3 separate regions of the Homo sapiens genome follow, and regions 2 and 3 are each linked to region 1. Evidence: fine-mapped expression QTL. A gene starts in region 1. Each other region holds a variant in brackets. All regions are shown on one strand. Distances are from middle to middle.

What was found. PIP is the estimated chance that this variant, and not a neighbour inherited with it, causes the effect.
Region 2: its variant is fine-mapped to the expression of ARL5B in whole blood (TOPMed, PIP above 0.99).
Region 3: its variant is fine-mapped to the expression of ARL5B in monocytes (Quach 2016, PIP 0.95).

Annotation. Positions count from the first base shown.
Region 1 is chr10:18,657,809-18,660,569 of GRCh38, forward strand. It overlaps ARL5B (ARF like GTPase 5B), which reads left to right and starts at 1,623. Exons shown (of 6, transcript NM_178815.5): 1 at 1,623-1,875. The coding sequence starts at 1,830. It also overlaps a transcript of NSUN6 not described here. RefSeq lists enhancers at 452-571, 1,272-1,401 and a silencer at 1,712-1,791.
Region 2 is chr10:18,682,248-18,685,008 of GRCh38, forward strand. No RefSeq gene overlaps it. Among named protein-coding and RNA genes, the nearest start is that of ARL5B, 24 kb to the left of the region's middle. The variant C/G (reference allele first, on the strand shown) is at 1,298.
Region 3 is chr10:18,035,099-18,037,859 of GRCh38, forward strand. All of the region lies in intron 12 of SLC39A12 (solute carrier family 39 member 12), which reads left to right. Among named protein-coding and RNA genes, the nearest start is that of SLC39A12-AS1, 26 kb to the left of the region's middle. RefSeq lists enhancers at 713-1,302, 1,303-1,891. The variant A/T (reference allele first, on the strand shown) is at 1,686.

The DNA of each region.
Region 1 (2,761 bases):
TCACCATGTTGGCCAGGATGGTCTCCATCTCTTGACTTCGTGATCCACCCGCCTCAGCCTCCCAAAGTGCTGGGATTACAAGCATGAGCCCCAGCGCCCAGCCAAATGTCTGCATCTTCATACAAAAATGCTTTGTTCTTTTCAGAAATGGTTTCTTAGAAATCCGAAAGCCAGAAAAAAAAAAAAAAAGCAGAATGTGGTTTACATCCATGTCTAACAATTGAAGAAGCTGTTACGGAATCTAAAGTTTGTTTTGTGATAATGAAGCTAGGACTAAAAATGTCCTTTTAAGCCATTACTTACACAAACACAAAATTATTCACATTTATGGTCCAACTGATAGTCATGAAAGTTAAGTTTGCATAGGGTCAGTACATTCTTTTTCCTCTACATAGGAGGTTGAAACTTGCCTTTAATGTTGTAACGTTGGAGCATATTATCCTGCATCTAAGTCTTAAAGGGTCTTTAAACCATAGCACTGGGAGGACGTAAGTCATACATTCTCCTTGTACAGGTTAACTCAAGAGTTTGGCATGTTAAAAGGCCACGTTGCCAAGGTTAAAATCCAACCATCTGACTGAAGTCAGAGTCTAAAAAAATTTTAAGCTTGCTCCTCCGTCAACTGGTTTCAAGGACATTCAGTTTCGTTTCATGCCAGGCTGTGAAGCTTTTCTTTTCAATGCTAGAACCTAACCATGGAAAGTGGAATTGAAAACAATTACACAGCGAATTGGCTTATGCGTGGACTTCGATCTGGGATCCACGAACATACCTAATGCTTGGCAAAATGGAGAGGGGTGCTATGTGTTATTATTATGTGTTATTATTAATCACATAACTGAACTCTGTGGCTCCAGGCCTTCCATGGCTCGTCTCCCAATCAATTCTTTTCAGAACTAAGAATCACGACAGGGGCCGGGCGCGGTGGCTGAGCCTGCAATCCCACCACTTTGGGAAGTCGAGGCAGGAAGATCGCTTGAGCCCAGGAAATTGAGTCCCCCTGGGCAACACAGCCCGACCTCGTCTGCAATCGATCAATCAATCAATGAGTACATAAATGCATAAGCCAATGAATGAATACGTGAATGAATAGATTAATAAATGAATGAAGAAGAATCACGGCAGAACTCCTAACCCCTAGCACGCCTGCCTAGGGGAACAGGAATAAGTCAGGAAAGAAACACTCTTCACTTCTGTGAGTTTTCTAAGAGCAGCAAACGGCGGCTGCTCACTTAGAGAACCTATGGTCTTTCCTGGTTTTAGAGGTCAGGGAAGCAGCTGCTAGCAGCAGAGACTCAAATCAAAGGGGAGTCCCACAAACGTTTTGAAGGCTGACATCAGAAGGAGCACGCACCAAGGGAAATTTCCCACCCCCCCGCGATACCGCAAATTCCCAGCCGCTGGCCGTTTGGGACTCTCCTACCGGAAGTGAAACCGAAGAAAACGCCACGTCGAAGGCGTGGGTTGCCGTAAGTGCGCCGTCGTCACGCGCCTAGCTTCCGGCGATGGGTGGTCCTGGGATCCGGAGGGGAGGCGGGGTGGAGGCGGGGCTTGGGGCTGTGGAGAGGCTGTGGTAGGTAGGTGGGTACAGACCGAGGGGACTACGGGTCGGCGTTGGGCTCAGTGGGCTCGAAACAAAGGGCTGTCCGGTGGGGATTCGTCGCGGCGCCTTCTGAGTGGTCGGGTCGAGGCTTCTCGGCCTAGCAGTGCCCTCGCTGCGCGATCTCAGGCGGGTTCTCCTCGGCTCCGCGCAGCCCGCGCCGCGGTGGGGGACCCGGCGCAGCGGCACCTGCTGCCGAGGGACCCCGCGGCCCGCCCCGGTGCTCGTGATGGGGCTGATCTTCGCCAAACTGTGGAGCCTCTTCTGTAACCAAGGTGAGAAGAATGGAGCTGCGCGGCGGCTCGAATCCGAGGCAGAGGGTCCCGCCGCCGATGGGGACACCGGAGACAGGGGACAGAGCGTTCGGAGACGCGGAGGAGGAAGGGACTTAGGCCAGGGGGCGGGCAGAAACTCAGTGTTTTAGACCTGGAGGACGTACAGGAGAGACCTGACGTGTGGGAGAAATAGGGAGGCAGAAGAGAAGGTATTTGGCGTCCCAGAATCCAAACTGAGAATGTTTGGATATTGGCGAAGTAAAGCGGGATACAGCTAATGATGCCAGGAGGCGTATGGAGGGCCTTTCTCGTCTTTATTGAAGCGTGCTTGTGTCTATGTGTATCCCCAGGATAAGTGTCCGCCCAGAAACCTAGAACTTTTTTTTTTTTGAGTAATGTAGGTGCTTTGTTTTCCCGCCCTGCAGTTTGAGCCGTAAGCCAGTGCACTTTCACTCTGATTTCGCCTCCTTTCCTCTAGGACTTGGGAATGAGTTGTCCTATTCAGATGCACGAGTTTTCCAGCATCTTCATTGTAAACTTTTTTTTTTAAAGCATTTAGTTCAGAAACTAAATGCTTTTCGGTTTTGTGTAAGACGTTACGTGTCCGTAATTAGTCTGTAACAGGTAATGAGACACCTGGAAGTGGCAGGTCCAAAGGGCCGAGAAGTTGCAAAACCTGTTCTGAATCAGAATGAGATGTGATGTCTTCTGAAGAGAGAAAACACCCAGACCAAAAAAGGGGCCGACGATAAGTTAAAGTTTGAGGCGTCCTTTGAACAGAATGGTTTCTTAGTAATTGAAACCAGTTTTGAAAATCAACTCGTTTCATTTTACATTTAAGAGCCGGGCATCGTTAATAAGCCAGTTTTATTTCCTTTTATGTTGG
Region 2 (2,761 bases), 24 kb after region 1:
CTCTAAAGTGGTTTTAACTCCACCGTTTTTGCTCACAGACCTCTTTGGGAATGTGATAAAAGTTGCCTACGTAGAAAAATGACTCATAATTACAGAGTTAGGAATTTTGAGTAGAAGGTTAGGAATTTCAGGTACCTAGGCTTAAGAGTTCTGCTACACACGGAACACTCAGATTTCTTCTGAAAGACACCAGAAACTAGTAAGATTTCATTCTGCCTGTTATTTTTTAATCAGTAAACTTAAGATTGGTATCTTTTTTAAAGCATGTTTTATGTAGGTATTTTTGTAGGTATAATGAATGCATTAAACTGTTCGTGGTTAAAGTGTACAATTTGAAAAGCTTTGATGTGTATACATTTGCAAAATCTTCACCACAATCTGGGTAATGAAAATACCTGTCACTCCAAAAGTTTCCTAGTGTCGCTTTGTAATCCTCCCTTCTGCTCCACTCCCCATCCGCAGATAATCACTGGTTTTGACTAATTATCCCCAATTTTGTGATTTAAAACAGTCTAAAATTAAGGTGCCAGCAGGGCTGTGTTTCTCCTCAAGGTTCAGGAGAGAACTCATCCTCACCTTTTTCAGCTTTTAGAGGCTGTGTGCATTTCTCGGCTCATGGCCCCTTCCTCACATCACTCCACCATCTGGCTTCTGTCAACACATCTACCCATTCTCATCATCCTATGCTTTTCTCATATTAAGGACCCTAGTGTTTCTAACTAGGTTTTCCTTGATAATCCAGGATAACCTTCCCATCTTGAGGCCCTTATGCCAGGTAAGGTAACACATTCACATGTCTTGGGGAATTAATTCTACTGCATGTGAGCTAAAAGAGCATCCTGAACAAAACCCTCACATGCTGGCAGGTGGCCACTTGCGATACTGGCTCACTGCAACCTTTGCCTCCCAGGCTCAAGTGATCCTCCCATCTCAGCCTCCCGAGTAGCTGGGACCACAGGCATGTGCCACTACACCCGCGTAATTTTTTTGTACTTTTTGTAGAGATGTCCCGCCATGTTCCCCAGGCTAGTCTCGAACTTTTGGGCTCAAGCCATCTGCCCGCTTCGACCTCTCAAAGTGCTGGGTTTACAGGCGTGAGCCACTGTGCCCGGCTCATACACTGATTCTTGATTTAACCTTTCTTTGTTTAAAAAACCCTTCCTACTAAGAAATATGTATACTCCTCAGCAAATTTGAATTCACATCTGAGATTTTTGACCTGACATTTTTGTGAGGACTTGGAGATTTGATGTTGCTATACTTGAGGATTATTCTGCAACAGAAACAAATGTAGTTT[C/G]AGTTTGATAATAACAATGAATGCACGTCTTCCAAAATGGGATTGGCTGTTTTATCACTTCTTTCAAATTAGTCACCTTATTTTGGCAGATGACACTATATGACTCAACATCAAGATACTTCATACTTGATAGGGATCATCTGATCTATGGCTCTGTTCTGAATTATGGTATTTTCATATTCAATTTAAAATAACACTGCAACCTCTTCTTCCTGGGTTCAAGCAACTCTCATGCCTCAACCTCCCAAGTAGCTGGGATTACAGGCATGCACCAATTACAGGGAAATTTTTTTGTACTTTTACAAAAAACTGACCTCAGGTGATCTGCCCGCCTCGGCCTCCCATAGTGCTGGGATTACAGGCGTGAGCCACCACGCCCGGCCCAGATGCATGTGGTTCTAAAGCTGTTCACTACCAGGGAGAAAGGTTCAAGAAACTTGAGCTCTGGCTTCGTTTTCTCTTACTGACAGAATGAAAGGGAAATGAAAAAATTTCCTCCATATATGCTTTGCCCAAAAACAAAGTTCAGGGGATGCATAGGCATAATGGAAGTCACTTGGCTAGCAACGGCAATTTGTATTCAGAACAGGGACCCTGTGGCTCAGAAGAGGTGGAGAGAAAAGGCTTGGAGAAGGATTTCACATTCTGAGGGAATTCTTAGCTATATGCCTGCCTGAGCTAAATAGGAACTCTAACTCCCTCTGCTTATAAACAAAACAAAAAGCAAACACGGATGCAAACAAGAACAGTGGCTCCTTTTCAAACCTGTTTTTTCTTTCCTTGTCAAAGTTATAATTTCCTTTGAGAAAATTATAACTTACATGACGTGCATGAAACAATGTGCACAATTTAACAAATCAGTAACTTGAACATATGTCCCCACCACTTATTATTGTATCCAGTATTGCTCTCTGGAAATGGCCAGCTTCATGTGGTTGTAGTTACCACCCTCATTCAAAAGTACTTGAGACCATGTTCCACCTCTGAGGGTTTCCCAGGGTGAGATTAGGGCTGTGGCTGATTCTACCCCCAAACCCACAGAATGCCCCAGTGATAGTTATATGTATGACTGTGGTAAGGAGAAATTTGATAGGGAAAAAGAGACGTTGATTTCCCATCCATCTCCTTTATTTCCTGGAGCCTGTGGCATACATGAAACCACCATTGCAAAATAATAACTGAGACAGTGAAAGAGATCTGACCCAACCAACTCCATCTTTTAAGAGCTTTTAACCTCCAAGCTGTCCTTGTTCATTCCTGGGAGCTGGCTGAACTAACTTTGGGAGGAACTCAGTTTATAGTTTGAAACAAAAACGATAGCCCTTTCCCAAGACAAATCCCCTTCTTGGCTGGTGACTAGACTTCCTTTGTGGGACTAACACATTAGCCAAAAGATTAGAAATTATTGTTTAGGAGTCATGCAGCTGTAGGCTGCACGATTCTAAACCTCCCCAGATTGCTCCT
Region 3 (2,761 bases), 620 kb before region 1:
CTTTGGTGAATCTGACAATTATGTGTCTTGGAGTTGCTCTTCTCGAGGAGTATCTTTGTGGCGTTCTCTGTGTTTCCTGAATCTGAATGTTGGCCTGCCTTGCTAGATTGGGGAAGTTCTCCTGGATAATATCCTGCAGAGTGTTTTCCAACTTGGTTCCATTCTCCCCATCACTTTCAGGTACACCAATCAGACATAGATTTGGTCTTTTCACATAGTCCCATATTTCTTGGAGGCTTTGCTCATTTCTTTTTATTCTTTTTTCTCTAAACTTCCCTTCTCGCTTCATTTCATTCATTTCATCTTCCATCGCTGATACCCTTTCTTCCAGTTGATCGCATTGGCTCCTGAGGCTTCTGCATTCTTCACGTAGTTCTCGAGCCTTGGTTTTCAGCTCCATCAGCTCCTTTAAGCACTTCTCTGTATTGGTTATTCTAGTTTTACATTCTTCTAAATTTTTTTCAAAGTTTTCAACTTCTTTGCCTTTGCTTTGAATGTCCTCCCATAGCTCAGAGTAATTTGATCATCTGAAGCCTTCTTCTCTCAGCTCGTCAAAGTCATTCTCCATCCAGCTTTGTTCCGTTGCTGGTGAGGAACTGCGTTCCGCTGGAGGAGGAGAGATGCTCTGCGTTTTAGAGTTTCCAGTTTTTCTGTTCTGTTTTTTCCCCATCTTTGTGGTTTTATCTACTTTTGGTCTTTGATGATGGTGATGTACAGATGGGTTTTCGGTGTGGATGTCCTTTCTGTTTTTTAGTTTTCCGTCTAACAGACAGGACCCTCAGCTGCAGGTCTGTTGGAATACCCTGCCGTGTGAGGTGTCAGTGTGCCCCTGCTGGGGGGTGCCTCCCAGTTAGGCTGCTCGGGGGTCAGGGGTCAGGGACCCACTTGAGGAGGCAGTCTGCCGGTTCTCAGATCTCCAGCTGCGTGCTGGGAGAACCACTGCTCTCTTCAAAGCTGTCAGGCAGGGACATTTAAGTCTGCAGAGGTTACTGCTGTCTTTTTGTTTGTCTGTGCCCTGCCCCCAGAGGTGGAGCCTGCAGTGGCAGGCAGGCCTCCTTGAGCTGTGGTGGGTTCCACCCAGTTCCAGCTTCAGGGCTGCTTTGTTTACCTAAGCAAGCCTGGGCAATGGCGGGCGCCCCTCCCCCAGCCTCACTGCCGCCTTGCAGTTTGATCTCAGACTGCTGTGCCAGTAATCAGTGAGACTCCGTGGGCGTAGGACCCTCCGAGCCAGGTGTGGGATATAATCTCGTGGTGCGCCGTTTTTTTAAGCCGGTCTGAAAAGCGCAGTATTCGGGTGGGAGTGACCCGATTTTCCAGGTGCGTCCGTCACCCCTTTCTTTGACTAGGAAAGGGAACTCCCTGACCCCTTGCGCTTCCCAGATGAGGCAATGCCTCGCCCTGCTTCGGCTCACGCACGGTGCGCGCACCCACTGGCCTGCGCCCACTGTCCGGCACTCCCTAGTGAGATGAACCCAGTACCTCAGGTGGAAATGCAGAAATCACCCGTCTTCTGCGTCGCTCACGCTGGGAGCTGTAGACCGGAGCTGTTCCTATTCGGCCATCTTGGCTCCTCCCCCGTGATATCTTTTACAACAAAGGCAGCCTAATAACTATATCATTGGCATCTTGCAGTTAGCATTTTAAAAATTATATATATATATATATATATATATATATATATATAT[A/T]TATATATATATTTTTTTTTTTAATGGAATCTCACTCTTGTCGCCTAGCCTGCGGTGCAGTGGCACAGTCTCGACTCACTGCAACCTCCGCCTCCCAGGTTTAAACGATTCTCTTGCCTCAGCCTTTCAAGTAGCTGGGATGACAGGCACCCGCCACCATGCCTGGCTAATTTTTGTGTTTTTAATAGAGTCTGCGTTTCACCATATTGGCCAGGCTGGTCTTGAACTCTTGACCTCAAGTGATCTGCCAGCCTAGGCCTCCCAAAGTGCTGGGATTACAGGTGTGAGCCACCATGCCCAGCCTAAAAATTGCTATAGATTATACCTCTTTCCAAAATTTTTTGGACCATTTGATTTTCCTCTTCTTGAATTACCTGTTTGGTATCTTTTGCCTGATTTTCTGTTGGTGTGTTTGCTGTTATTGTTTATTGATTTATTAAGTGTTGATTATTGATAATTCATTATTGATTGCATCATGTATTTTATCAAATTTTCATGAAGTGCAGTGACATTTTTATGCTTAATAGGACATTTCTACCATTGATATTTTCCATTTTTTTCTAATTAGACCAATTCGCCCTTGGTCATAATAGACAAGGATGAATTTCAGATAGAAACAGTGAATCTCAGATAGAGAATTGATCTTTGCAGTTCTTTGTATGTTCACTACAGTTAGGAGGTGACCTGGTTTCTTGTCCTCTTTCTGACATCACAACAATGTGACTGTGGGTGAGCTGTTATCCTCTCTGAGCTAATGTTTCTTCAAAACTGAAAGGAGTGAATAGTTTTATCACTTGCAGGATTATGAGAAGTAAAAGGGGGGAAATATATATGTAAGAAAGGACGTGATAAATAGATGTAAATGAAAGGCAAATAAAATAAGCATTGCATAAGACTTTGTAGCCAGGACAACCTGAAAGACCTGGCAGGAAAGAAGTGCTGCTAGAAGGCACAGCTAGGCCAGGTGCAGGGGCTCACACCTGTAATCCCAGCACTTTGGGAGGCCAAGGTGGGCGGATCACCGTCAGGAGATGGAGACCATCTTGGCCAACATCATGAAACCCCATCTCTACTAA